Homo sapiens: one gene and its partners. The protein of the gene in region 4 interacts with the protein of the main gene of each other region in a biochemical or structural test. Each region holds a gene or a part of one and is shown on either strand. Other genes may lie near its edges. The genes, in order: ARHGEF12, MPP3, PTPN4, SLC15A5, SHANK2, TJP1 and APBA2.

Region 1 (4,164 bases), on a different chromosome or scaffold from region 4:
AAGCCTTTCATTTAGGGTGGTATGTTTTTTGATTTGGTGAGAAAAAAATCAAAAACCAAAGAGACGGATGTAGTGTTGATTAAAAATCAAATTTGACTGGCAAGTTATATTTTAACTCTATTAACAACGGGGTCCCTTTTAAAACTTGTTAGTTTCATGGTGGCAAAATAAATTTGTGACCTCTTTTCTCCACTACTCACTGAATATTATTAACTAACAACTTAGCAAAAGTGCAGTTCAAAATAAATGCAAAAGAGTAATAGCATTTAATCTGGTAATTTGGATTTATTTATTTTTTTTCTTTTGAGACGAGGGTCCCACCCTGTCACCCAGGCTGGAGTGCAGTGGTACAACCTTGGCACACTGCAACCTCCACATCCCAGGCTCAAGCAATTCTTCAACCTCAGCCTCCTGAGTAGCTGGGACTACAGGCATGCACCACCATGACCTGGCTAATTTTTTTGTTTTATGTAGAGGCAGGGTTTCGCCATGCTGCCCAGGCTGGTCTCGAACTCCTGAGCTCCAAGCGGTCCACCTGCCTCGGCCTCCTAAAGTACTGGGATTACAGGTGTGAGCCACCGTGCCCGGCCAGTAATTTGGATTTTTGACATGCTTTTAGCAAAGTTTCTAGTAAATTATTGTGGAATTAGTGCTAATTCGTATAATCTTTGTTTTATTGAAGTACAATAAATATAGTACAATAAATACGTTAATATGGTAAGTTGCACAAATTTTAAGTGTACATCTTGATGAATTTTAAAGTAAATATATGTAACCTTTATCTAGTTTAAGGGGCAGACTATTTCAAGACCCTAAAAACATCCCTCATGGCCTCCCCAGGTCATAGTATTAGAGTAATCTTGTATTGTTTTTTCCAGATAACAAAGCTTTATTCGTCATTTCCATGTCAGACAATGGCGCTCAGATTTATGAACTGGTGGCACAGACAGTTTCTGAAAAGACTGTGTATGTATCAGATATGGCTACCTTGCTATAGCTAATATTTTCATTATCCCAAGCGTAATATTCCATAAACTTAACTTTGTTTTTATAATGTATGGAAACCAAGCACTTCCTCTGTACTCTTTTAGAGACGTTCTACTATGAACTTGTTCTTTTTTAGGTTGATGCCTTTTATTTTGATTCTATTCTGAAAGTTTATTTCCTAAAGAAAAAATTGTGCAAAATGTCAAGTGAAGTTTTTTTAATGTGTCCATAGATTTCTCTTAAGGTATAGTTTTGGACTCTCGCCTTAATAGTGTGTTGCCAAAATAAAGATATTCTCTGGCAGAGTGGGTTTTGTTGTTGTTGTTGTTGTTGTTGTTGTTGTTGTTGTTGGTTGATTTGGTTTTTGTTTAGTTTTGCTTTCTGAGTATATTTAAAGGATATTTCTTTTTTCTTTTTTGTATTTTGGATTTCTTTCCAACTTTCTGAAGCTGGCAGGACCTAATCTGTCGGATGGCTGCATCAGTGAAGGAGCAATCCACAAAGCCAATTCCATTACCACAGTCAACACCTGGCGAGTGAGTGTTCCTTTGCATTGTAGTAGGACTTATTTTATGTTTTGGGTTGGAAAAGACTAGGATAATTATTATGTTTTGTTGCGATGATGTTTAGATACCTCAGGAAGGTAAAAGTTTTTTTTTTTTTTTTTTTCTCTACAGAGGAGATAATGATGAAGAAGATCCTTCAAAATTAAAAGAGGAGCAGCATGGCATTTCAGTCACTGGTTTGCAGAGTCCAGGTACACTCTTCTGAAGAGTTCAATGGAGAATGTGCTCTATTATCTGTTAAAATGCTGGCCGGATGTGGTGGCTCATGCCTGTAATCCCAGTGCTTTGGGAGGTCGAGATAGGCGTATCACCTGAGGCCAGGAGTTAGAGGCCAACCTGACCAACATGACAAAACCCTGTCTCTACTAAAAAATACAAAAATTAGCCGGGCATGGTGGTAGGTGCCTGTAATCCCAGCTACTTGGGAGGCTGAGGCAGGGAGAATTGCTTGAACCCAGGAGGCGGAGGTTACGGTGAGCCGAGATCGTGCCATTGCACTCCAGCCTGGGCAACAAGACCGAAACACCAAAAAAAAAAAAGAAAAAAAGAAAAAAAAGAAAATAAAATAAAATGCAAAGAAACTTTAATACTGTTTGGTTTATGCAGGTTCCAGCATCAGAGATTCAGTTTAACAAACTTTGCCTTTGAGCCTTCTGTGTGTCAGTATAACACTGTTCTAAGTGATGTGTATTTTTCTTAACAGATGATCTCTGTAGTTTATGGATTGTTTTTTTTTTTTCTGATTCTTCCCTGAATGCTTCATGTTAAAAGTTAAAAGCTTTGTTTAGATATAGTCTACCTTTTCTATTCCATTGGACAGACAGAGATTTGGGATTAGAATCTACCTTAATATCGTCAAAACCTCAGTCTCATTCACTGAGTACCTCTGGGAAATCAGAGGTACGTGATCTGTTTGTGGCTGAGAGACAGTTTGCAAAGGAACAACATACAGATGGGACACTAAAGGAAGTTGGAGAAGATTATCAAATCGCAATCCCAGATTCACACCTGCCTGTCTCAGAAGAACGGTGGGCATTGGATGCACTAAGAAATTGTAAGTTTTATTCATAACTTATTACAGATACTTACTAAGTATGACACTCATGTGCCATCCCTAAAGTATGTGGATTTATCAAACTCCACTTATTCTTCTAGTTCTATTGTGGAGATTATAGTATTCTCTACAGTGGCCCATGCCACAGGCACACACACACATGCCACTCTGTTAGCTCCCCACCCCCCTGCCTGGTTCAGAATCACTGTTAAAATGGGAGGATAGCATATCTCTCAGTTGTATTGAGGTGGGAAAAAGGCTGAGAACAATTTCTTTGGCTGGGGAGAACCACTTGAAATTTTTAAACCAGCGTATGACTAAAGGTATGAAAAAAGATTAATCTGGCTGAAAGCGGTGGAAGGATTTGAATGGAAAGAGGTATGGAATGGTGTACTTACTAAATAAGCTATTATAATAGTCTGGCCTGAGACTAAAAGAGTTTGGACTAGAATGTTATCAGAAGGAATAAGAAGAAACTGAGAAGTCATCAAATGCTTAAAATAATTGACTTCTTTGAATGTGAGGTCAAAGGAAAGGGAATATTTAGAGATAATTTCATTAATCTAGTCAGAAATAAGAGTCAGAAAAGGACTACCACTGCTTCCCCCACCTCCTTCCATTGTACTTTCTTTTTTCTTTCTTTTGATTTGGTAGAATTATAGGCTCAGTTTTAAAGCATGTCAAGATTAAGATAATGAATGACAAAACACTAAAAAGTGAGTAACTAGCAGGAAGTTAGAGTTTTAGGAGTGAAACTTTAGAGAGAGGTTAGGAAGAGATAGAGATGTGAGCATCAGAGCCATGAGACTTCCTGGCATCTCTCAGGAAGTGATTGTAGAGCAGAAGGACAGAGGATGAGAGACCTAAGTGGAACCTGTTGCCTAAAGAAACATGACAGACATTAAGCTAGTGATGAGAGCAGAGAATTGGTTATTTAAAACCTACAATATTTTTTATACCTTCTCCTGAATTAACAGTCTTAATAATTTCTGATGGTTGGAATAACATTGTCCCAATAACTCTATCATTGTCTGGGTGACCTCATAGCATACACTTGGCCCATTCAAAATTAAATTGGTTCTTATTTTCAGTAAATGTATGTATCTCATAAAATTAGAGGAAATAATATGCATATAGTGTCTGGATCTGGAAAAAGCAGAACTTTTTTTTAGCTTTTTCTGTCTAGCTTAACACAGCCTTTCAACATTCTTAAGAAGTACCTTTAGGGTATTATTCTAGTTATATAGAAGAAAAAATAGAGGCATGATATTGGTTATTGAGGAGTTCTAAATAGTAGTATCTCCCTATTCAGAATGCTTAGATCTTTTCAAGTTTAGTTTAACGTTAAATCTTCTCTAAAAGATGGTGCTTTATTTCATCTTCAAAACAAAATGGAAAATGATTGTATGAAGTAAGATGATTGTATGAAATTAATAATTAACATTTTAATATGTCATTAAAAGATACTTTTTAAAGATAGATCATTGGTAAGTCAGCTAATTTAATTCTTGCAGCCTGAGGTTATAGTTGTGAATATGTTTTTTTTCCCCCTCCTTC
Region 2 (4,164 bases), on a different chromosome or scaffold from region 4:
ATTGATTTCCATAACAGAATTGGGATGCACACTTCTGAGGAAAATCAGGTCTTCTGCAGAACAAGGGCACACACAAAGCCACACACACAGTATTTTCCAAAAGATAAAATGGGATCTTGAGGCACTGTGTCTTCTGGCCCATGGGAACCACCCAGGGTATGCCCTGTGTTCTTTCTGTGGCATCTTAGTCCAACCTCCGGTAGAGGTGCTAGGGTCACTTTTCCAACCATGTCATCCCCCTGCTTAAAAACTTGTATTTATCTATGGGTTACATTCTAAACACCCTAGCTGAGTATCTGAGACCTGCGTGATCTGCCCAACCTCTCAGCTCCATTTTCCAGCACACCATCCACACTAATCTCCCCGGTCCCCAACACTGCTCCGTCCCTTTGCACATGTTGTTTCCTCTGTAAAGAGAACTATTCCTTTCTCTTCTGCCTGGAAAACTCCTATTTACTCTTCAGAACCCAGCATAAAAGTCACTGCCTCTGGGAAGGCTTCCCTGACTCCCCCAGTTTCTAAAACAAAGGAGGAAAGTCTCCTATCTGTGGAGTGCCTAGAAGCAGGTGGGCCTGACCATCCAGGTACCTCTTCTCCAGGGGGTGGATCCAAGGGGTTCTGAACGATCAGTGTGTGAGCAACCTCTGCATGTCCTGTTTCAGTCCACCTGAAACTTGGAAGGCCGTGGCTCCCTGAAGCCCTCCAGGTCCATCACAGGTGTGCTGCCAGGATGGCCTCCCCAGGGCCACCACCTCCCCCACATCCCTGCCACTTCAGATTGGGCTGTGGAAGACAGCTCTGACAACCCACAGACTAGACGCTGGGCCCAGGGGCCCAGGGAGAGCGGTGTGATCAAAGCAAGGCTTCATGGTTGCTCTGCCCCAGAACACTCTGAGGAGGCCCCATTAGGGCCCCCACAGCACCCCTCTCAGTAGCCACCAGGCATTCACACTGCATCCCTCTGAGGCCAGGGGGACTGAGAGTGAGTCCCAGAAAGAAAAGGGGCAGCCAAGGGCACGAAGTGGGAGGCGGCAGGTGAGAGGCCATTGTGCATCCTCGTTAAGAACATGACTGGGGCAGGCTGCCTGGGTATGAATCCTGGCTCCACCACTTACCAACTGTGTGACATTGGACAAGTTACTTAACCTCTCTGACCCTCACTGTCTTCCTCTGCCACACAAGATGATAACAATCTCTCTTCTCAGGGGTACTGGGAGGGCTGACGCAGGGCACTACACATAAAAGCTCTTGGTGCATTACCTGGCACCTTCATTCTCCTCCTCCTCATCCTCCTTATCACATTCAGAACCAGGATCCTCTGCCCACTGGAGCTTGACATCCCAGGGTGCCCCTGGCAGCAGTAAGCCCCAGGAATTGGCAGGGGAGGCATCACCCAGGAATGTACCCAGCTACCCTGACAAACTGGAATCTGGCTATAAGGGAGTGCCGAGAAATACCACTCACAGGGCTCTGTGGCTTCTCTGACCTGCCCTCTCATCCAAGCAGAGGGCAGCGGCCACAGGAGTCAAAATTCACTGTGATGAGGAGGAATGCCCCCTACTGTGGGGGCCCCGTGGTGTCAGGTTGAGGCTGCCACTTTGCCTACAATGTGCTCTGGACTCATCTCCCACCCCAGGCAGGAACCAAGCAAGTGGTCCTCCAACTTCTGCCTCAGAGGGTCTCAGAGGACCACTGGGAGTGGATTTCTTCCCATCATGCCTTTGTCCCACAATTTGCCAATAGCAGGCAGTGCCTGGTGATCCTTTAAACCCAAAGTAAGGATTTGGATGGATCTGGGGAGTTAAGTCTCCATGGAATATTTGTGTGTGTGCAGACAAACACACACTCCCACATGGGCCCTCTTACGTGGAACAGCGACGCCAAAGTGCTGTGGGTTCTCAGCCACCACCTTTTGCTTCAGCTCGTGCAGTCGGGCTCCCAGAGACCCTGGGAAACAAGAAGAAGGCTGACCAGGGTCCCTGCTGAGCTCCCTCCCCACCTGCTCCAGGGAGGAAACCAGATCACTTCCTGGAAACCCAGGATGGCACCTACCGATCAGAACCACCAGGCGGGGCCGCTCTCCGGGCTGGTGTTGGTACCTGGCCACCTCTTCGTAAGTCAGCAGCTCCGGAGACTCAGCTCCGGAGGACATCTTTCCTTCCTGCGAGCCACCCAGTCTCTCCCTACAGCCCAGCCGGAAGCTCCTCCGAAGACCAGCTTGGGAGGAGGGGCAGAGGGACACCATGGCATTTGTCCCAGTTGTCCCAGGATCTCCCAGTAGAGACTTTTCCCACCTGGCCAGACCTGGAGATGGGACTGAGTCCCACTGACTTCTCCCAACCTCCTCCTGCTACTGGAAGAGGTTGTTCAGGAAATACAATAATAAGATGAAAGGGTGACCCCTGCATTCACAAACTAGGGCTTAAGGTCACTGTTTTACTTGGCATGTGACTGACCTTGGACAAGTCCCTTCATCTCTCTGAGCCTCAATTTCCTTACCTGTGAAATGAAGATATGAATCTACAACTACTATGTGTGGTCCTAGATTAGATCCTGGACCAAGGGAAAATGTCATAAAGGACATGATGGGGACAATTGTTAACATTTAAATAACAGCATATAACAGATTTGGATACATTTTAAATTCTCAGAATTTGATCACTGCCCTGAGAAAGTCCTTGGCCTTAGGAAATACATGCTGAGAGATTTAGGGTTAAAGGGACACGATGTCTACAACTAAGTCTCATATGACTCAGGAAAAAAAAATTCAGAGATGTGGGAAAGGAAATTGAGCAAACATGGCAAAGGAGCAACTGGTGAATCTGGGTGTGGAGTATATGAGAGTTCTTTGTATAATTCTTACACCTTTTCAGTAAGTTTGAAATTACTTCAGGACAAAAGTTAAGGGGCTGGGTGCAGTGGCTCATGCCTGTATCCCAGCACTTTGGTAGGCCAAGGCAGGCAGATCACTTGATCTCAGGAGTTCAAGACCAGCTGGGCAACATGGTGAAACCCTGTCTCTACAAAAAATACAAAAATTAGCCAGGTATAGTGGCATGCACCTGTAGTCCCAGCTACTAGGGAGGCTGAGAGGGAAGAATCGCTTGAGCCTGGGAGGCTGAGGCTGCAGCGATTTGTGATCACACCACTGCACTCCAGTGTGGGTAACAGAGCAAGACCATATCTCAAAAAATAAGTTTAAAAAAAGTTTAAAAACTTTTTAGAAAGGAGGATTGCTTGAAGCCAGGAGCTTGAAACCAGCTGGGCAACATAGCGAGACCCCATCTCTACAAAAAAAATTTTTTTAATCAGCTGGGCATGGTGTCAGATGCCTGCAGTCCCAGCTACTCAGGAGGCTGAGGTGGGAGGATTGTTTGAGCCTAGGACATTGAGGCTGCTGCAAGCTGCAATGTCACACACTACTGCACTCCAGCGTGAGAGACAGGGCAAAACCCTGTCTCTAAAAAATAACCAAAAAACAAAAAAAACTTTTTGCCTATCTCTAAGACCTTTGAAAAAACTGACCAAAACAAGTGAAAAGGGGCTCTGGAGAGCCGCAAACACCCCTCACTGCGTGGTAGTGGTGTTAATATTGAATAAACTCCAATTGCAATGATGGTGATAATAGAATTGGTATTAATGTAGGGGTGTGTGTGCCTTTCCCGCCAGGGCAGTGTGCCCCACAGCTGGGTAAAAGCTGGGTGGGGGCCCAATGCCTGGGCAGGCTCAGCTCCTGCTTGGGTTGAGAGAACTGAGGAGAGATGGGGGTCCCATAGGCTCCACTGCTCCAGAAGGACTCCTGGGGCTCAGATCACCCTGCTTTGACCTCTCCCTAACTCTGGGGCCTTGGGTGGGGCAGGTCGTGCATGTGGGTGTCAGGGGGAGCTACTTACCCACATAGTGCCCTTTGAGGTAGCCCTCACAGTCACAGGTCTCTGGGAAGCAAACAGAGGGAGGGAAGCCAGTGAGTCCCACCAGACACATCCGGCCCAGGGCACCCAGCCCCTGGATGGCCAGGCAGGAAGAGCCCCCTGGGATGGTGTCTCGTGGGGAGCTCAGGGGAAATCCCATGTCCTGGACACCCCAAGAAAGCAAGGTCCTCTGTTTTGCTCAGTTCTCCATGCTTAGGCCCCTAACAGCCTTTCCAGGCCCTGAGGGGGATTC
Region 3 (4,164 bases), on a different chromosome or scaffold from region 4:
ATATAAAAGGACTTCAGAGAGTGGGTTCACCCCTTCTGTCCCTTCTAGCATGTGGGGAAACAGTATTCATCCCGTCCAGAGAATGACACAACAAAGTGCCATAATGGAAGCAGAGAGCAGTCCTCATTAGACCCTCATGAGAACCTGTGTGTACCCTGATCTTGAACTTCCCAGCATCCAGAAGTATAAGAAATACATTTCTGTTCCTTTTAAATTACCCAGTCTCGAATATTTTGTTACATAGCACAAATGGACTAAGACAGCCCACAGTACTGTACTTCATCAAATCTATTGTAAATTGTTAAGACCAATTTCAGAGGTGTTAAAATATGAAAAGGAGGAGCATCTAAGAATCAGTGCAATCAGTATTATTTTTATATCTTATGATAAAGTTACTGCCAATCATATGTTAGAACATATCCTTTGCCTCCTACCTTCAGAGCATAGCTTTGAGTTCTAATTATTACAGTGACAATAACACCATAAGGACAAAATATGTACTCTCTTTTAAAAATGACGTATCTGTTCAGCTATACACTCATAAAAGACGGAAAACAGAGTACCTGCAATGGACAACAACGGGTTCTTCCTTGCCAGCCCTCTTGTTTCGTACATGACAAACAAAATCTAGAAAGTCACTCGAATCATCAGGGACTCCATGGTCAGGCCAGGCTATGTACTGGATCTGAGTGAGTGGACGACTTTCATTTTTCTAAGAACAAATGAAAAATTATGCACCTTGACTTATGTATTATTGAAATTGTCCCTACAAACCTCATAAAATTCATCAGGAAAGAAGGGAGGGGGAGATAGAAAACTAAACACAGCTTGCAGCACACTTAGCATTGATCACTAGGTCAGCTGCTCTCTGACCCGCGTCCTCATAGTTGGTTGGTGCCTGTTGCCTCAGAATCCCACAGACCCATTACAAGATTATAGTTCCCCTTAACTGCTCTACAGATAACAACTTGGGACATTATGAAATGTTAGATTTCCCCTTTGAGACATTCTTTTGGGTCCTGCATACTGATGAAACTACTGACTCAGTTGGTCTAAAGGACCCTGAGGTAAGCTAACTCACCAAAGAATGCACCTCCTGATGATTTCATCCACCTTATCCCAACCAATCAACGATCTTAACTTCCCAGCCCCTTGCTCTCCACCATCCCCTTAAAAACCCCATCCCAGATCTCATCTCCTTGGGGAGATGATTTGAGGGTCTCCTCCCATCTCCTTGCTCGGTACCCTGCGATCATTAAACTCTTTATCTGCTGCATCCCTGCTGTCTCAGTGTATTCGTCTGTTATTGCACAGCAGGAATATGAACCTGTTGGTACTATGACATTATCTTTAAAATATATTCATGTCATTGGAATTTTAGAAGGAAAGCAAAACCAACCACTCCTCTTCTCCACCAAAAGTTATGTATAAACTCATTAAAATGCAAAATTTCAACAAAAAGGAAAGAAACTATTTTACAGAAATAGTTGTATCCATTTAAGTATGGCTAATTACATTACTACTCTTTTTATAACTCAATTTCTATATGTGTAAAGTATTTTAAAGATGATAATCAAGTACATAGGTAGAAACAAATTAAGACCCAGAGAAATGCTTAAAAAAAACTAATGAATTCTTGGGTGAGCAAAAATGGTAAAGTAAAAAACATTTTTTGTGAACAAAGCTGACCTAATCCTCACACAATGCAGATGAAATTATGGAAATCAGAAAAATAAAATCTCAAGATAAATGTATATTAAAAATTGGAGTTAATAAAAACACAAAGTCAAATCAGTGGGATTAATTCTTTTTGGAGAGCCAAGGTTGGTATAACGGAGACAGTAAGAGTATTGCGTTTAGATACATCTTGGTTCAAATCTTGACTCTGCCAGTTACAGCATTCAGTGTTTCAGAAAATAATTTCCTTCAACTGAAAAATGAAATAACATCTATACTTTAAAGGATCAGTCTTATGCTAAAAAGACTCCATGAGAGGACCTGTAAATCACCCCATCAGCTACTTGGCACCATATACTCAATAAATGGTTGCTATAGTCATTCAACACTATAATTATAACTATGGTTATTGCCATTTACACTGAAGAGAGCTTCCTGAAGAGTAAAAGTAAAAGGTATTCAAGACTTGAGGTAGTATCTGCTATCATTAATCCATCCATGTATGTATGTATTTATGGGAGCGAACTCATTTTCCCAATTATGTTTGGCTCAAACTTTAGAAACTAACTCATGTCTTAGTTCTAATGTACTCAGGGTGTGTAAAGAAAAGCCACTATGGTATATAAAACTGTCATGGATAATCTACAGGTGGAGTATAATAGAGACTATGCTAAAGATAGACATTATTTTATATAAACATACGTAGCCTATCTTTCATTATCTATTTGAGAAAATGAAGAAATATCATATTGGCTTGACCTGTTACATTAGACCATGAGCTACACAGTATATGTCCCCAAACCCTAAATTCATTCTGATGGACTCTAGCCCATAAAATTTTGAAATTTTAAAATTCTTGTCATTTTAGCTTTATTCAATGCCAGATTCCTTTTCTATAAATCAGCACAACTTCTGGCTTCTTCCCTTTTCGTCAGTAAGACTCTGTCTCTCTGGTTTCCTTTAATCATGCTCTTGGGGTTGGAGGGGAGTTCTCATTTCCAAAGGCTTGACCATTGATGGGATAGTCCTGGGCACTCATAGCTTGGGCTATTTGCTCTTCTCTAGCAGTTATTCTTTTAGTCCCTTTCAAAACCAAAGATGGTGGCAGGGGGATAGCTAGCTGCAGGCAGAGAAAGTAGGGTGCACTGTCTCTAGCAGCCTGACAGAACTGGCAGCATGACGCTCTCTACATACATCTTCCAATTGGGATACTGAGCCATCATTTATTAATCAGTTTCATTTGAAGCCAAGAGGACTGACTCAGGCAAAATTAAGAGCTGGCAATTAGAAATCTACACCCCATCTGCTGTCAGAAGGTCCTGGTTACAACCTTTTCCTTCTTAATAGGTAGGGGACTGTGAAGTTGCTCTCCTCTACTCTTTTAAAAAAGGAAAATAATTTAATAGCTTTCAATTGTTTTTTCCATTTCCACAGACACACCCAAATACTGTACTGATACTACTTGGAGTAAAAGTTTTTTTTATAATGAAACATATCTAAACAGTTGTTCTGAATAAGCAAAGTAGTAACAGTAGTATTATTTACCAGACTACTTTTTCACTGACCATTCATATTTAGTCATAGAAACTAAAGAAAAACATTAATTTTATAATAGAATAGGATAATACTCTTAATAAAATTCCAAAGTACCCCATTAAAGCAGATAAATAATTCAATAATTCTTATAGTATTTCCTAGCAACCAATACTCAAACTAAAAACATTTTCAGCTTTCAGTCTTTACCCTGAACACAACAGTTCTAATGAACAGATATCCTGCCTTCTTACCTCTTGGTTAAATAGGGTCATCTTCCTGAAGATATAGGCAGTGTTTCCTTCTTCAGAGTGGCAGGTAACTTGGTAGCATCCATAAGATGAACTGCCTGTGGGTTCTGGCCAATATTGGTGACATTTAACCTGATATTGATATAAATAAATAATAAATAAAATTATATACATATGGATTCATGTTCTCCAATTTTTAAAAATGTTTTTTTAATAAATTTCAAACATATAAAAGTTACAAGAAAAATTTAATAAATTTCATCTCGATCTGCTGACTAGTGTTTTTTTTTTTTGCGATGGAGTTTTGCTCTTGTTGCCCAGGCTAGAGTGCAATAGCACGATCTTGGCTCACTGCAACCTCTGCCTCCTGGGTTCAAGCGATTCTCCTGCCTCAGCCTCCCAAGTAGCTGGGATTACAGGCATGTGCCACCAAGCCTGGCTAATTTTGTATTTTTAGTAGAGACGGGGTTTCACCATATTGGTCAGGCTGGTCTCGAACTCCTGACCTCAGGTGATCCACCTGCCTCCGTCTCCCAAAGTGCTGGGATTACAGGTGTGAGCCACTGCGCCCAGCCGACATTTTTTCTTTGTCACTTTTTTCCCTTTTTAATAGTAAGTAATCTGGCTATATTTTGAGGCAGCAAAAATCCTCATTAAATCTTAAGATTTTTTAAAACAGCTGTAATGACAAGTAATTCATGTA
Region 4 (4,164 bases):
TTAGTCTAGAGGTCAAGAAATTTTCTGTAAAGGGCCAGATAGTAAATATGTCCACATATGGGTTCCGTGGCAATTACTCAACTCTGCTATTTTTGTGCATAAGCAGACATAGATACGACAAAACAAAGAGCATGGCTATGTTCTGATAAAACTTCATTTATGGACGCTAAAATTTAAATTTTATATATTTTTCTTTGCTTTTTCTCTTTTTTTTTTTTTTGAGATGGAGTTTCATTCTTGTTTCCCAGGCTGGAGTACAATGGCATGATCTCTGCTCACCGCAACCTCCGCCTCCTGGGTTCAAGCGATTCTCCAGCCTCAGCCTCCCAAGCAGCTCGGATTACAGGCATGGCCACCACACCTGACTAATTTTGTATTTTTAGTAGAGACGGGGTTTCTCCATTTTGGTAAAGCTGGTTTCGAATTCCCGATCTCAGGTAATCTGCCTGCCTCGGCCTCCCAAAGTGCTGGGATTACAGGTGTAAGCCACCACGCTGGGCTAAATTTTATATAATTTTCATGTGCTAGAAAATACTATTCTTTTTTTAATTTTTTTCAAACATATAAAAATGTAAAAATCTTCTTAGCTTACAGGATGTACAAAAATAGTGGACTGGATTTGGCCTTCAGATAGTGGATGGCTAACCCCTGGTTTAGAGGGGCAAGCACTGTACTGAGAGGCAGAGGACAGATTCCGCTTTCCCTTACACTACTATTAACTGTGACCTACGGTGCCTCACCTCTACCAAAAGAAAGTCACTTAATTTTTCTGAGCCTAAGGTTCCTGTTTAACAAATAAAGTAGTTTATGAAGTTAATCTCTAAATTTTGTTGCAGCTCTATTATTCTATGATTTCTAAATGTAACTCATTCATGAGTCTTCTAAATTCCAAGTTGGGAGTTAGCAATGAACAAAGTCCCAGATTTGTTCAAATACTTTTGTAATCATTTATTTTTCTCAGTAAATAAGTTAGTCTTTAACTCTAACCACATTAAAAAAATTTAAAATCACATATATCTATAAAAGGTACTTTGGGCTTTGTATTTTCTCTTGATTTTCTCACAGCACAGGAACGAATTCCCCAAGGAACTAATAGAGTGGGTGGGGAGAGAATCACTTGCTCATTAGTACTTATATTTAAGAGTACAGTGGAGGTGGTACTCAAATCAGTCAGTTTAGCTACTCGTTAGTACCACTTTCTAAAGGTTTAATGAGGGAGGAAGGCAAAACCTTTGGCTAAAGGGAAGTTTGGTAATTGCCTACAGATCTGATATGTTCGTGCACTGCTCTTACGCCTTACGACTATGCATTCTGAAGTACTGTCTGCACCTACTGACAGACATTTATAGCTCCACAAAAGAAACACATCCCAGGGTCTCCTCAGGTATACCTCTGCCTGACCCCGCTTAGCTCTGGAAATCAGAGCCTGTAATGATGAGAAGTTTCTGTGGGGATAACTGCCTGCCGACATATATGGAAAGCGCTCGTTGGGGAGAAAATTCACCTTGACTTGCACTGTTGACATGCAATCACTTTCCTGTTGTTGGGGTAGTACTCATCGCCTGTCCTTACCTGCATAATGCACATTCTGTATAGGAGCTGAAAAATGAAGAGAGGGAGAAGGGTGAGGAAAAATGTTGTGTCTTCTACATGGAGCTCACTGTAGCAGCCACCATTTTTTTCTTTGGCATGGTCTAACTGGCTTGTCACGTCTCTGCCAAGATGGCAGTATTGCGGGTGGCATGTTTTCAGTGCACTAACCAACACCCCAACGCCTGTCAGGAGAGAACAACCTGCAAGTAATCGGAGATATTATGTATTAGTATAGGAATTGTTCTCCAGTTTTTCAAGATGCTGATCAGAAAGATAACGATTCAAGGATTCACGGCAGTGAAGTGAGAAAGTTTTTAGCACCCAAGGGGTCGGACTCAAAGGACCACGCTTCTGACAGTGATTCTGGCATCCTGATGACCAGCCCATGGTGGCACCTAGCAGTTGATGTCAAAAGTGTAAAAGGTAAGATCAATGAAAACATATTAAAAGGGAAAGAAAGGTGACAAAATAATACGCCAAAGTTAAGGACTTCAGAATCTCTCAGAAGTCTCTAACTTTAATGCATTAATGAATACAATAAACTGAACTTTCTTTAACATCCTTAACACAAAGAACTAGTACTATTTTTTCATATAAATTATTATATAAATAATCCTCATTTTACTTGGCAGGTAGAGGGTGGCTTCTTATTGTGACATGGAGATGAAGGGAAATGTAATCTCTGCTTTGACTTTATCCTTGGATTTAGAAATAAGGTTAGACTATGAACTCTCTAAATGATTTTATGCATGTTGATAGTGTCATTAAGAGTTCAGATTAGATTAGTTGGCTTTTGACTTTTCCAGTAGTTTCTTCTAGGTTTACATGGCTGTTGCTGCACGATCAGAAGCGCTTTATTGCTTCAGATGGCAGCAGTCACTTACTGCTAGTGATTTGCAACCTCATTGTTGCTTCTTTTATGATCTTTTAGTTCCTACCTTTTCTTTGACTCCATTAGGATTTCCTGATACAATGACAGATAAGAGACCCCCGTTTAGGCAGCAGTTCAGCTGTGCTGTCATGATAGTTACAGGTTTTCATAGCACTCCCTTTGACCAGATAAATCCCCCCAGAAATTACGTAGACACCAAACTACTGTTGCCAGGTAAATGGCATAATAAATGTGAAAATGTTTGTGTTTCTCCAAAGAAGGCTGCTATAGAAACTCAAAGTATAGTTTGAAAGTCATTTTGATTATGTTCAAGTTTCCTATAATAAAATTCTAGATAAAATGCATTCTAATGAAATTCATTTATATGCCATAGAGTCTTGGTTTTTATGTTTAAATAAAGAATATGTATTAATATATTTTTATAGCTATAAAGTGGTTAGATTGATTTGATCTGGTCTTTTCTTCAAGAGTTGTAATAGACCCATTATGTCAGCCTTTGATTAATTGAGGAAGCTGGGGGCCTGGTAATTGAATATGGAGCCTTTCACCTCTAAGTCACTGAATCAAATCCAGCCCAAATTGGTAGTGACCAAGAATGATTACAGCTGTGGCTCTTTGGTGGCCTTTGTGAAGTGTGTTTAGGTCATCTGGGAGTATGTTGGGATACTTGCTAACAGGAGATAGGCTTATATCTATGGTCACTTTTGTCTCTTCTTAGTCACTATTGCCTGAAGTAGATGAAGGCCCAGGTACTGGTAAGGCCAAGAAGACAGAAGCCACTGTGAGAGGCCAAGATTTGTTTCTCTTAGGAAAGAAGTAATAGGGACTGCTCTTTATTATTAGAGAATGAACTGCTCTATTATGAGACTTTCCTAGCTATTTCAATTAGTTTACTTAAGGTTTAGGTAAGATGAGAACAGAGAATGTGTTGATGAACAGTCTGGAGACTGAATTCGAACAAGCCTGGGCTGGGTGGCTTAACTTCCTGACATTTCCTTACAATCTTGTCTCTATTACTCATCAACCTGTTCTCTGCTAAACTCTTGCAGAGTGGTGCTGGGTAGATAGTAGGGTTATTATGAACACTGATCCAAATTAACTTTATGCTTTCAGATAGGTTTGATTATTAAATGATAAGTACTTGCAGGATGAAAGATTATTTCCAAAGATATTTTCCCCAGTTTCCCCCCAATTTTTAAAATTCAGGAATTTGTATTAAATATAATATATTTTAAACTCACTAACCGTTTTTTTGTATAAACAATCACTATTTGTTGCAAGATAAACTTGGATCTGCTTCTAATACATGACAAATTGATACCTGCAATCTTATTAAATTATTAAATATTGCCATCATTTTATTTCTAATGAGAGGTAGTGGTAGTTCAGATTAGTGCTTTTCAACCTGTGTTAAAAATGAGTTTTTAAAAAAATATCTCAACTATCGTGGTCAATTCATTTGTGAAATCCAATAAAAATGAAATATCTAAACATAAAATAAAGACATACAAAATATAAGCCCTGATATTTTTATTATTAGATTCAACAGACATAAGATGTCACTGTCCATAAATATTTCTATATGTTTTCTCTTAGTGTCTGTATTTATTTTGTTGTATACTGGCAACAAACAGTTCAGAGACCAGCACTGCTCCATGAACCATGCTTTATGTGAAGCA
Region 5 (4,164 bases), on a different chromosome or scaffold from region 4:
TAACAATAGATTCGTGCTCATACATAAAAAGCTTCTGGGTCCTTCAAAATGCTAAGAGAGCAAAAAAGATTCCTTAAGCTAGAAGTCTGACAACCACTGTGCTACCTCATCTGCTTTACCTGAAAGTGAACAGAAAAATAAACTGGTGTGCCACCCAGGAGGCAATCTGGAGGCCGGGGAAGCGACCGGTGCCTTCTTCTGCACGGTGGAGTGGGCAGCCGCCAGGTGTGGATCCCAGCTGGGCCACACGACCTTCGGCAAGTTCAGCCACTGGAGCTGAATGACCCTCGAGGGAGGGAAAGTCCAGAACCAAGACGAGGGGCAGTAGCGACGCCATCGGGTCAGTATCTTCCCCTGCCAAAGTCCCCTGGTCCATGCTTGGGGCCACTGTAGGACCTTGAAATGCAGACAGGAGCAAGGCGTGGTCCCTTTCCTGGGGGACCTGTCCACCTCGTGAGGAGGGGTCAGACAGGAGCCCGGCTGGCCCAGGGGCAAATGCCTCTAGTTTGCAGGCCCCTGTACGGGAAGAGGGGAGTGGAGCAGATTCTTCAAATCCCAGGGACATTTGTGCGGGGTGGCAGGAAAAACATGGACAGGAACGGCTGAGCCCTATGCTCTCAGGGGTACAAATGAGGCCACAGAAGCATCCCCCTCCACTCCCCAGGAAGCCTGCATTCTCCCCAGGGAAGGAATCCAGGGCAGGATTTTCAGGAAAGACAGGCTTGGAAGCTCATTTCCCACCTCCCAGGAGCCCGGAAGTCTGTGTCAGCTCCAGGTCTGGAAACCCAGGATGCCCTGCACCCCATTCCTTGGGCCCTAAGCCTCCCAGGACCCACCCCAGTGGACCAGGGAGCAGACTGCCAGCTGTCCAGACTCTTGGCCATTCCCCACCCCCACCGAGGACTCTAGGTGCTGACTCTGGATTCTCCTTGAGAAGAGGAGGGGACTGATGAGCCGGAGTGAGGAAGACGTGGGGCAGGACACCCCCAAGTCTGCAGGGAGGCAGCAAAGCCTGGCAGTATGCAGAGCACACACCTGGCATCACATGTCACTGCCTTCACGTAAGTATCATCACTGTCCCCAGGTAAGAATCACCTGCAGGACCTTGAGTACAGGTGTAATCTTGTGAACTAAGATCTCCCTTGCAGGGGGCTTCAAACTGAGGTGCAAGGACCCTTTCCACGTAGACCCAGCTCAGTCTAAAGGGTAGCCAAGTCTTTCCTGAAATTGCTCAGTGGAGAAAGGCCTTGGATCCCCTGCCCACCTCCCCTCCCTAACATCCCTGAGGCTCTTTTACATAAGAAAGGCATAGCTATCCCCCGGAAGCTGGTGAGGGGGTGGTGCAGCTCCAGGTGAAGGGCCCTCCTGATACCAAAACAAAAGGGCTAATGCAACTAGGGCTTCAATTAAAACACCAAAAACACCCACTGCCTTCTCACTCAGAGAGGCAGCTCCAGTAACAGCTCCCCTTTTCCATTTCTAAAAATCTGTAATATATTTATAGTTTTTGACCAACTGCGCCCCAGCAATGACTGTACAGCTTTTTCAATTCAGAAGTAATTTTTTTAAATACTTAGCAACTCCAGGTCATGGGAAATTTTATGAAAGTCAATTTATGTATATTTTTCGTGCAGAGAAGTATGCTAGGTTGATTAATAAAAGACCCATGAGCATAAAAGTCTATTACATTAGGATAAAATTCTTTGGGGAAGTGGCTGTATAAATTCAAGAAAAGAACGATGAAAATGTCCTAAAGCTCACTTACGTATCCGTCAAGAAAAAGTGGCTGTGAGTCACGATGGGTTTATATCACAGTGGGTAAAGAGTCAGGCAACAGTTCCTTTTAAAATATCGATATTTACCTCACAGAGGTACCGTAGCCTTTACAAATATTTAAACCTATAAAGAAAAATTTTAGACGTTGACTTTAAAATGTGTGAGAAGCTTGGTAAATGATGAATGGCACAATCTGAAAGGAGTTTACTGGCAATTGTTTCAGCTTTGCTGGATATTTGAATTTTTCATAAAAAATTGTTGCAGAAAATGTATGAGAGAACAAGCTGTTTTTTTTAAAAAAAACAACACTTTCAGGGACAGACAAAAAAAAAAAAATGGAAGAGGCAGGCCCCAGCCCAGCAGGGCCATGGCAGAGCTGCAGTGCTTATGACCTCTAATGCACGCCTCCTGGGGGGTCTCTGGTGAGGCCTTTCTAAGTCCAGCAACTCAGGGCTGCTCCAGCTGATCTTCCTCTCCCTCTGGGGGAGCTCCCGTGCTGCCTTTCTGCTGCAGCAGAATTTCTGGGACGGGGAGCCAGGAGCCCTTCTGCATTCCACCATTTGGAATCTGCAGCCTCAGATTGGGAGTTTGTGGCCTAATTCCATTCACACGCCCCTCACTGAGCTAACCCCAGAGTCGCTACCATACCCAGCAAGGACAATTTTAAAACACTGTCCCCAGTCGTGCTCTGGTGCAGTGCCGGGTTTGGCAATGACATCTGGCAGCCAATCGGGGAGCCCAGCATGTCCCTGCTGCTGCCAGCAAACTCCTGGCAGCCCCACAGGCTTTTAAGAACTTAATCTCCCAGGGAGCGAGCTGCGTTTCAGCCAGTCCCTCCCTGAAGGCCCATCCCCGGCATATGTGCATCCAGAGAGACCCAGGCTATGGTCCCTAAACCCAGGGCAGGCTCTGGGTAGTGGGCATGGGCCCATTGTCCCCCGCCCTGCAAAGAACAGAAACCCTAGAATGCAGGGAAGGCTTGCATCAGAGGCGACTGTACCCCAAAGCCCAGCATCAGTACTGGCGCCATGGCCAAGGAGACAGCCGTCCATCAGCGGCATCAAACCAGTCCTTGAATCTGCCTTCAACAATGGAAAACGTGGGGCACATCAAGAAGTATGATGAGAAACTGGTTTTCACCTGCTGACCGCAGCGCGATTTCACAGCACGGGAACCAGAAGACTAATTTTCTAACCGCTGCCTGGCGGCTTTCTCCAGCTGGGCAGCGTGCATTTAACCACCGGGCGGTGTGGGGTCAAGGGCTCCCCTACCCACTAGCTGTGTGGGCTAAGGCAAGCGGCTTCACTCCTCTGAGCTTCAAGCTTCTGATCTGTGAAATGGGAATCGTAATGAATCGGAGCTGGCTCATTGGACTTCTGAGATTTACTGAGGGAATAAATAGCAAGAGTGTGGCACTAATGCCAATCAAAAGGAAAATGCTCGGTGAGAGTCTCACTACCTGCGCTGCAGCTCCTGACGTTATTATTGTGACTAGCGGGTGGCTCTGTCCCCACCCTGGGAACAAGGACTGGGTCATTCTGCCAAAGGCCCATGTTCAGTCCCAGGAGGATGCAATCAAACAACCCAGACCTCTTCCAAGGGTTTGTATCCCCCCACCCCACCCCACGCTGGGTTGGGGACCCTTTCTATGCCCTGCAGCACTCGATGCTCACCTCCATCACAAGCCCTGTCACAACACGGACTAACTGGACTGTCCAGTCACGCCTCTTCCTCCCCATTATCCTAGAAGCTCCCGGAGGCAGCCCTTGTGGCCAGTCCAGGCTTGGATGTGGCAGCAGGCCCTCAGATGATTATTCACGCGGAAAGAAACAAATACACCCTAGATATCCTCTGACCATGAGAGAATGACAGGCCTCTCATTTTGGGTGGGAGGTTAGGTGCAGTGGCCAAGTCACAAAGGTCACTTAGCCCTGGGGGGCTGCAGGCTCCAAGCCCTGCACTCAATATGCTTACAGCCTCTCAACAAGTGATTCATTCTCCCGGTGCCCAGGTGAATGGCAAGGGGTGGGGGACTCCAGAGATGGAAAAGACCCGCCTTTGTCTGGAGCGATCCTCCCTTCTCCCCTCTCCTTCCCTTTCTTCCACAAATTCCCCAGTCTATAGAAACGGACAGGGTCAAGAACTTTGCTGGAGGTCATGTGGAGGCAAGAAGATTCTCAAGGGTCCCTCCCTGGGGCTCACAGTCCCAGTTACAGGAGAAGTGGAGGCTCCTGAAGAGGCTGTGCGCGTCCATTTCCACTGGTTTTTCTCAGCCACACCCTCCCTGCTGCCCCAAGGAGGGGCCCTCAGACTCCAGGTACAACAGCCCCAGGTGAAAGCTCCGGCTTGAGTTTACAAAGCAGGAGGCTGGAATTGCAGGCAGGTAAG
Region 6 (4,164 bases), on a different chromosome or scaffold from region 4:
TTCCTAGCTCTGCACATCCACAGATGGTCAGGGGCGGACAGAGCTGGCCTCTGCTCTGCAGCTCAGGCTGCGCTCTGCTCCCTTGATGTTGTGTCGTAGGATGTCGTCCCTGGCACTCCGGTCATGCTGGAGTGAAACGGCAGCTACCTTCATGTAATTCTGTTTCGTTGGTCTTTCTGCTCACCTTTGAGCCCTGGCTCAAAACTGTACTTTCAGGAAGTTGATAGCCTCTACTTTTGAAGCAGTCATTGATACCACATCCCCTTTGCCTTTGGCGTTCTGTGATTACTAAGTTAATCTACTGTCTCTCTTTCGTGGATGTTTGGGATATGCCCATACAAGGGTCTTCGCCTCATGGAACCTTGGAAGCCTTGCCTCCTACAGCCAGAGCGGGCGCTTGGTCCTCAGGGAATGCTGAGGCAGGACCATACTCAGGCACACTTAAAATCCTAGGGAGATTTTATCAAGTCTGAGATGCTGTCAGCCGTGAGATGCACCATTGTTTTGTGTCACTAAAAATGGAAGAACAGCCAGGCACGGTGGCTCATGCCTCTAATCCCAGCACTTTCGGAGGTTGAGGCGGGCGGATCACTGGAAGTCAGGAGTTCCATCCTGGCCAACACGGTGAAAACCCATGTCTACTAAAAATACAAAAATTAGCCGGGCATGGTGGCAGACGCCTGTAATCCTAGCTACTCAGAAGCTGAGGCAGGAAAATTGCTTGAACCTGGGAGGTGGAGGTTGCAGTGAGCCAAGATTGCACCGCTGTACTCTAGCCTGGGTGACAGCAAGACACTCCATTTCAAAAAACAACAGGAAGGGAAGAACAGGGCTACCAATTAAATTGTGACTTACCAGTTTTAAAGTTCCAATTTCATGGATTTTAAAATGTGCTTCATAAAACTCTGTACCTGTTTAGTATCCCTTGTCCAAACTTCTTGGGTTCTGAAGTGTCTCATATCTTGGGTTTTTTTGGATTTTGGAATATTGCCAAAATGCTCCAATGAGCATTTCCTTTGAGCTTCATTTTGACACTCAAAAAAAAGTTTCCGATTTTGGAGCATTTCAGATTTTCAGGTTAGGGATGCTTCACCTGTAGTTGGGTGTTCAAGGCATCAGATTTTACACTTTCAGGTTGCAATTCATTAATGAAGGTCGTTTGACTAATTGCCTTCAAAAATTGAATTTTTGACATTTCTCTAGAATTTTTGAAATTTTCTAGAATGGAATTTCTCTAGAAATAATATTCTCGCCAGGCGCGGTGGCTCACGCCTGTAACCTCAGCACTTTGGGAGACCAAGGCAGGTGGATCACGACGAGATCAGGAGTTTGAGACCAGCCCGGCCAATATGGTGAAACCCCATCTCTACTAAAAATACAAAAATTAGCCAGGCTTGGTGGCGTGCGCCTGTAGTCCCAGCTACATGGGAGGCTGAGGCAGAAAAATCACTTGAACCTGGGAGATGGAGGTTGCAGTGAACCAAGATTGTGCCACTGCACTCCAGCCTGGGCGACAGAGTGAGACTCTGTCTCAAAACCAAACAAACAAACAAAAAAGAAATAATATTCTCTGCGATAACCCTGTCAGTAAAATCTGTTGCCAGAAACTTATCTTGTTAAAGTAACTTCTTGATTATATGGAGAAATAAAAGTGAAAGCACGTAATACAGTAGTAGTAAAAGCAAAGCACCTGTGTATTATTAGGAATTCACTCACTAGCCATTTCTGAACTTTCAGTCCTTCAGCTGTGGAAGAGGATGAAGATGAAGATGGTCATACTGTGGTGGCCACAGCCCGAGGCATATTTAACAGCAATGGGGGCGTGCTGAGTTCCATAGAAACTGGTGTTAGTATAATTATCCCTCAAGGAGCCATTCCCGAAGGAGTTGAGCAGGAAATCTATTTCAAGGTCTGCCGGGACAACAGCATCCTTCCACCTTTAGATAAAGAGAAAGGTAAATGTGTTTATTTTTCTCCTTAGTTTTGATAACTTAAGAGTTGCCCTGTGTGCACTTCAGAGCTTATAGTGCTTGGCTAATAATGCAGCACCTCTCTATCTCCAGATGAGTGCTGTAGCGAGGGGTGCCCTGGGGACGGTGTTGCAAGCAAGCAGTGGGTGGCCTGAAGCAAGGCTGTGGTGACCACACTGCCTGCTTTTACTTTTGGTGTGAAATAAAAAATGATGGCATAGGACAGGCCACGGGATGTCTCACCTGCTGAGCAGCCTAGGCTGACCTAACCAAATTTGTCTTTGAATCAGTCAGCCTTTGCGTCTCTGGAGATGGGTTAGGTAACACCCACTCAGAAAGGCTTTGCTGTGCCTTCACCTGATTGGAGAACCTAAACCTCTTGACAGGTACTGTCTTATTCATCACCCCAGAACCTAGCACTAGTACATGCTCAGCAGAGTGCATGAAGGAGTCTCAGAGGAGATGACAGCATGTTTCTGAGCTTCTTAAGGAAACTTATTTTCATAATCCTCCTGGATCTACCAGGATATTATAACGAAGTGTGTTGTGATTTAGCATCTTTTAGCAGTGCTTTTACTTCCTAAACAAATTTAGTTCGCTTTTTTGTATTTTGCCGGAATACTGACATCTGATTCTGTACTCTGATTTTGGGGATATCCTGTTTTAAAAACCAGTAGGACTGACTGTGTTGGCCCTGCATGAATCTCTTTAACCACCTATGGAGCAAACAAAACATTTTGAAAATGGAAAATATATCACATTCGCAACAAGCACATTTGAATATGTTTTTTATTATAGACCCATATGATTGAATGCAGTAGCCACTGCCTGCACGTGGCTAGCTAGCACTTGAAGTGTGACAATTTGGGATTGAAAGATGCTGGAAATGTGAAATACACACCAAGTTCCAAAGATTTCATATATTGATTACATGTTGAAATAACAGTGTTTTCGTTATATTGAGTTAAAATATTAAAATATTGTAAGATTTGATATCACTTGTTTCTTTTTACTTTCTAACGTGGCTACTGGGAAATTTAAGATTCCATATGTGGCTGCTGTTACGTTTTTTTGTGGTCAGTGCGACTGTAGAGAACTAACTCCATTAGGCTTTCAAGCATATAATTAGAAGCAGGGTGAGGAAAACTGGGATTCTAGAAGAAAGACCACATCCATCCTCTCTGCCTATCCCCTTTTCCAACTCCAGGTGAAACACTGCTGAGTCCTTTGGTGATGTGTGGTCCCCATGGCCTCAAGTTCCTGAAGCCTGTGGAGCTGCGCTTACCACACTGTGCGTCCATGACTCCTGACGGTTGGTCTTTTGCTCTAAAATCATCCGACTCCTCGTCGGGTATGCTGTCTTCACTCTGTCCTTTGGGAGCTTTGGGGACTGTCGTTGATTAATACCTGGGCTGATGATGCTGCCCATGCTGTGTGTTAGCAAATCTCTATCTCTGTTCCTGTGGCCTTGTAGGCATCACCAGTGTTTTCACATTTATTTGTGGTGCATATATTGTAAATAAATATGGAAAGGTAGAAGACTTTCTGCCTTTTAAAAATTGATAATTTGGGCCGGGCGCCGTGGCTCATGCCTGTAATCGCAGCACTTTGGGAGGCTGAGGCAAGTGGATTACCTGAGGTCAGGAGTTCAAGACCAGCCTGACCAACATGGTGAAACCCCATCTCTACTAAAAATACAAAAATTAGCCAGGCGTGGTGGCACACACCTGTAATCCCAGCTACTCGGGAGGCTGAGGCAGGAGAATTGCTTGAGCCAGGGAGGCGGAGATTGCAGTGAGCCAAGATCGTGCCACTGCACTCCAGCCTGGGCAACAGAGCGAGACCGTCTCAAAAAAATTTTTTTTTGATAATATGGCCAAATATTGACTATTTCTTGGTGTTCAGAAAAATGATTTATTCTGTCAAATTTTTCAGGATGCAGTGGGAGATATTGTCCTGCACAAATAGGCATTTTTACCTTATTAAAATGACTTTGTTCCTTTATATAACTATTTCTATTTTTGGTTACTATTGTTTAATTTATTTTTTGTTTGTTTGTTTTGATTTGGTTTTTTGAGGTGGAGTCTCGCTCTGTCGCCCAGGCTGGAATGCGGTGGCACGATCTCAGCTCACTGCAACCTTCGCCTCCCAGCTTCAAGCGATTCTCCTGCCTCAGCCTCGATTACAGGTGCCC
Region 7 (4,164 bases), on a different chromosome or scaffold from region 4:
ACAGCATCTAAGTGACCAATATTGCCCATTTCTCCCTTCAGATTTTTTTTTTACTGCAGCCTCAACCATAGGGATCACTACACTATGTGGACAGCACTGGGATCAGAGAGGTGAGCATGGGACACATGGCACCCTGTGCACCTGCTTGAGGCCAGGCCTTTGTTGGCTCCTGGCACGGCCTGGCTGTCCCCCAGGGGAGGAAGGGGATTGTTCTTAGGAAAGCAGGTTGTTATTTCAAGCAAGGCAGCACCAAATCTCCCAGTGCACATCCTTCATAAAAAATCTTGCTTTCAAGATGAATTCTACGGCTCTTTCTGGTCAGGTTTCAAAGAGGTCCTCATCTGGAATGGGGTACTCAAATCTAAGAATGTGGAGACCCTGCCCACGTGCAGCGGGCCTGGTAGAGTCTTCAGAAAGAGTAGTCAGGGCCCCTGGCACCAGGGTACTTGTCAGCCTGGAACTCTGGAACTAGCAGGTGTTCCCCTTGACAGAATTAATTTGTGAACTGATAGGAAAGAAAGAAAGAAAGAGAGAGAGAGAGAGAGAGAGAGAGAGGAGGGAGGGAGGGAGGGAGAGAAGGAGGGAGGGAGGGAGGGAGGGAGGGAGGGAGGGAGGAAGGGAGGAAGGGAGGAAAGGAGGAAAGGACAGAAAGGAGGGAGGGAGGGAAAAACAAAACAAAACAAAAGCTATACAATCATTAACCAGTTTAAATGAACTTTTCCAGTGTCTCAGACAAGAGCATGTCCTTCAAGGACACATTCTCCTTAGGGGGAGAAGTGACATACTTTTTCATTCAATGCCTCTTCTGGGAAGAACAGACATCCTCTTGATCCTCCACAATGGCTGGGGACTTCCCCTACCTCCACCTGCCCTTTTAAACAGCTACTATCACCCATCCATCCATTCATTCCCACTCATTTACCTCCCAGCTCTCCAATCGCAAGATCTCTGTGTTTTTACCCAAATTACCATCTGGTTAGCATGAAGCACAAAACCAGAAAATATCAGGTCTTGCTTACTCCCCACCACGCTCTAAAGATAATCTTCTTTGACAAGAACTTGGCTAGCGATGCCATTTGTCACAATAAGACGCAGCATGTCACACGCTCTGCACAGCCCACGTCAATCCCTGAGGTGCCTTCACCACTGTTGTGGGACAAGCCCAGGCCCTGCTAAAGACCAAAGAAACACTTTGCTTTGGCCTAAAGCCCAGACCCAGGGTCCAGAGCCTCCTGGCCTTAGGGGTGAACTCTCCCAACACCCACTAGTACCATGGGAGCTCCTATGCATCCCACAGCCCCCTGTAAACACGGAATTGCTGTGAATGACAGGAACACCCCCAAAGTGAAGTCAACTGACACTTAACGTTCTTTAGAGAGAATACAAGACATTAAAATACAAGTGCTGAAAATCCAGGAGTCAATTAAAATATAAGTGCTGAAAATCCAATGATTTCCATTCCAAACCCAAGCTCTCAGTACACACACACACACACACACACACACACACACACACACACACACTCAAATTCATGAACTCTTCTCGGAAAAAAATATTTAACAGTTAAGGCTGTAAAAAAATATGACAGAAGTCCACATAATTGGCCAAATAGAAGTTCCTTCACACAAGTCCAATAATCACATCTTCTTTATATACTCACAGTGAGGCTTTTTTTGGAAGGTGGCTTTTCAAATGTGTTTATTAGAATGCACGCTGACTTTGCTATAATTAAAATACAGTTATGCTGACATCCACTGCCCTCATTAGCATGCGTTTCTTCCCCGAGGTTTTGTCAAACCTTCAAAAAATCCTTTTCCAAATAGGTATTCACAGCTGATTGCCCATCAGGCCAAGGCCCCCGGGCTTTCAGAGACCCGTCCATTGTGAAATGCACTCTGGCCCCGACCCCAGCCACCAGGCCACCCAACACTGGCCGCAGCAGTGGGTGAGCACCAGCACCCCCACGTCTTTGCCACTGCCCTGCTGGTCTGAGTACACCCCTGAGGATTGAGGGGCTCTCCCACACATACTGCCCCACCATGAGCAGACCAGGGCAGTGGGCAAGAAATCGAACCTCTCTTCTAGGGTGGGAGGAGGGGTGTCTTCTGCGAGACACGAGTTGCCACTCAGCCCTCAACCGGCTTTAGTCCTGAGTCTGAGCGGTGAGCTTAAGAGTGGCCGGAGCATCCACGCAACATGTCTCCCAACTGGACCAATGAAGAGCTCAGCCACCATTAGAACTGTGAGGCACCCAGCACCCCCCACCGCCTCGCTTCAGCATCTGCAAGGCCTGTACCCTGAGGTCCCTTGCTCTCGGGCCCCTCTGCTCCCTTCCCCAGGACAGCCAGGGTCCTACCTGCTCGTGGGGCCACTTCAGCCTCTCTTCTGGGGTCCTGGTCTTGGGCTTGAAGCCTCTCTGGGGGTCTCCGGGGTGCTTGGCCTCGGGAAGGAGGTTCAGCGACTTGGGCCTCGCCTCGTGCCTGCTGGGGCTGCAGCTGGCCTTGATGGGTGGGCAGGCCTCTACAGAGTCCTCAGGCCCTGGCTCAGGCCCATGCTCGGGGCTGGCCTCACTGGCGCTGGTGATGCTGGTCATGCTCAGACTCATCTTGATCTCTGCCACGATCTGGTCAATGTCCTCCTCCTGGTCCTCCAGGTCCCCATCCCCACGCCTCAGGCGGTAGGGGGAGGCGCCGGTGTTCCCGTTGGCCTCCTCGGGGTAGTAGTCCTGGTAGCCCTCTTTGCTGGCACAGTAGTGACCATCTTCTTCCTGGTCATGGGCCTCAAGGACGGAGGGCTCATCCTCCGGAATGGGCAGTTGGCCGTCTGGGTAGTCCTGGCTGCCTTCAGCCTCGTGGCCGTGGGGGTGCGGGCCCGCCGAGTCCGTCCACTCCTCCACCGCCTCCTGGCACTCATCAGTGTCCACAGGGTGTGCACTGTGGGCCAGGTACTCCTCCCCGTTGCAGTCCATGCCCTCTAGGTAGCTGTCGTCCTCAGGGCAGTAGCGGATGTAGTAGGTGATGCCCTCCTCCTCCTCAGGGAGGCCCTCGTCATAGTCCTCCTCCTCAGAGGTGTTGTTCACGTAGTCAGAGCTGGAGTCCCCATCGGGGCTGTGGTTGTGGCACTCCTGTTCCTCTGGCGCGGGGCTCTCTGGCCGCAGGGCAGCCAGCTCCAGGCCCTCGGGCACATAGCCCTCCAAGGGCAGCTCCATGTCCTCGCTCTCGGGCTCCTGGCTGTGAGGGACAGGACCTGGTCTCACCCTATGGTCCAACATGCCGCTCCCCACGCTCTCAAGCTTCCGGTGGGCCATGGCAGTCGTTCACACAGCCATCATCACCCGGAGGCAGCCACTGTGGGGAGGAACATTGGGAAGGACAGAGTCAAAACCCCACAAAGCCCAGCCATGTGTGGGGCCACTTCACCACAGCACCTCCCACCACGTCCTCCCGCAGCCATGTGAGGGCACATCTGTTCAAACAGTGCGCCATCCCCACCCCCGCTAACTCATCATCAGAACAACACGCATCCACACCAAGGAGAACGAGGGCACACAGAGCTCCGGGAAAAGCAGTCAAGGGAGGCACCGGCAACTCACGAGGACACACGCCTCTCCCCAGGAACCTACCGGCTCATTCCTGACTTCTCACTCAGTTTGGGTAGCCCAGGTGACCAAGACAAATGGTCAGAAGATCAGGTTGTTTGCTCTCACGAAGAAAATGAGCAGCTTTCATTAAGAAGACATAATGAGGACCAATGAGGAGGGACAATAACTCTTCCCAATCTAAATCCATGACCCCTCAAAGACTATCTTGGGTACCTTCCCCTTCAGGCTTATCCCATCCTCTCCCTCCTCTTCCCCCTCAAACTGAACAATGTTCACCGAGGAACTGGATGCGCAGGGACCATCCAGGCTGAGCAATGTGCAGAAAAGCTCTACACAAGTCCCCAGCGTGGCAGGCTGGAGGGCTCAGCAGAGGGGACAGCACTGCTCGGCCATGGGGAGAAGAGGACAAAGGGTGCAGCCGCAGCCTGCAGGTATCGTGGGGTGACAGGGCAGCTGCAGAGACCTGGCAGGCCAAACTGGGAGAGGGCCTGGACCCAGTGCCCAGGACTCTGCACTTTATCCCCCAAACCACACGGCTATGGCCTTAATATGTCCCCCAAAGT

Evidence for each region.
Region 1: the proteins of SLC15A5 (region 4) and ARHGEF12 interact in a test that uses a peptide from one of them, tested with the Homo sapiens proteins (one large-scale study listed by IntAct).
Region 2: the proteins of SLC15A5 (region 4) and MPP3 interact in a test that uses a peptide from one of them, tested with the Homo sapiens proteins (one large-scale study listed by IntAct).
Region 3: the proteins of SLC15A5 (region 4) and PTPN4 interact in a test that uses a peptide from one of them, tested with the Homo sapiens proteins (one large-scale study listed by IntAct).
Region 5: the proteins of SLC15A5 (region 4) and SHANK2 interact in a test that uses a peptide from one of them, tested with the Homo sapiens proteins (one large-scale study listed by IntAct).
Region 6: the proteins of SLC15A5 (region 4) and TJP1 interact in a test that uses a peptide from one of them, tested with the Homo sapiens proteins (one large-scale study listed by IntAct).
Region 7: the proteins of SLC15A5 (region 4) and APBA2 interact in a test that uses a peptide from one of them, tested with the Homo sapiens proteins (one large-scale study listed by IntAct).

What each region holds. Positions count from the first base shown.
Region 1 is NC_000011.10:120,475,783-120,479,946, forward strand, and holds part of ARHGEF12 (rho guanine nucleotide exchange factor 12), read left to right. Parts: intron 1-878; coding exon 879-966; intron 967-1,436; coding exon 1,437-1,523; intron 1,524-1,664; coding exon 1,665-1,744; intron 1,745-2,373; coding exon 2,374-2,607; intron 2,608-4,164. UniProt on the Homo sapiens protein: May play a role in the regulation of RhoA GTPase by guanine nucleotide-binding alpha-12 (GNA12) and alpha-13 (GNA13). Acts as guanine nucleotide exchange factor (GEF) for RhoA GTPase and may act as GTPase-activating protein (GAP) for GNA12 and GNA13.
Region 2 is NC_000017.11:43,812,145-43,816,308, forward strand, and holds part of MPP3 (MAGUK p55 subfamily member 3), read right to left. Parts: intron 3,936-4,164; coding exon 3,894-3,935; exon of another isoform or gene 3,436-3,893; intron 2,500-3,435; exon of another isoform or gene 2,218-2,499; coding exon 2,053-2,217; intron 1,948-2,052; coding exon 1,867-1,947; intron 1-1,866. UniProt on the Homo sapiens protein: Participates in cell spreading through the phosphoinositide-3-kinase (PI3K) pathway by connecting CADM1 to DLG1 and the regulatory subunit of phosphoinositide-3-kinase (PI3K). Stabilizes HTR2C at the plasma membrane and prevents its desensitization.
Region 3 is NC_000002.12:119,962,045-119,966,208, reverse strand, and holds part of PTPN4 (tyrosine-protein phosphatase non-receptor type 4), read right to left. Parts: intron 3,594-4,164; coding exon 3,465-3,593; intron 713-3,464; coding exon 564-712; intron 1-563. UniProt on the Homo sapiens protein: Phosphatase that plays a role in immunity, learning, synaptic plasticity or cell homeostasis. Regulates neuronal cell homeostasis by protecting neurons against apoptosis.
Region 4 is NC_000012.12:16,243,008-16,247,171, forward strand, and holds part of SLC15A5 (solute carrier family 15 member 5), read right to left. Parts: intron 2,017-4,164; exon of another isoform or gene 1,824-2,016; intron 1,794-1,823; coding exon 1,573-1,793; intron 1-1,572. UniProt on the Homo sapiens protein: Proton oligopeptide cotransporter.
Region 5 is NC_000011.10:71,245,414-71,249,577, forward strand, and holds part of SHANK2 (SH3 and multiple ankyrin repeat domains protein 2), read right to left. Parts: intron 1-4,164. UniProt on the Homo sapiens protein: Seems to be an adapter protein in the postsynaptic density (PSD) of excitatory synapses that interconnects receptors of the postsynaptic membrane including NMDA-type and metabotropic glutamate receptors, and the actin-based cytoskeleton.
Region 6 is NC_000015.10:29,703,319-29,707,482, reverse strand, and holds part of TJP1 (tight junction protein 1), read left to right. Parts: intron 1-1,737; coding exon 1,738-1,955; intron 1,956-3,177; coding exon 3,178-3,321; intron 3,322-4,164. UniProt on the Homo sapiens protein: TJP1, TJP2, and TJP3 are closely related scaffolding proteins that link tight junction (TJ) transmembrane proteins such as claudins, junctional adhesion molecules, and occludin to the actin cytoskeleton.
Region 7 is NC_000015.10:29,053,028-29,057,191, reverse strand, and holds part of APBA2 (amyloid-beta A4 precursor protein-binding family A member 2), read right to left. Parts: intron 3,348-4,164; 5' UTR 3,308-3,347; coding exon 2,357-3,307; intron 1-2,356. UniProt on the Homo sapiens protein: Putative function in synaptic vesicle exocytosis by binding to STXBP1, an essential component of the synaptic vesicle exocytotic machinery. May modulate processing of the amyloid-beta precursor protein (APP) and hence formation of APP-beta.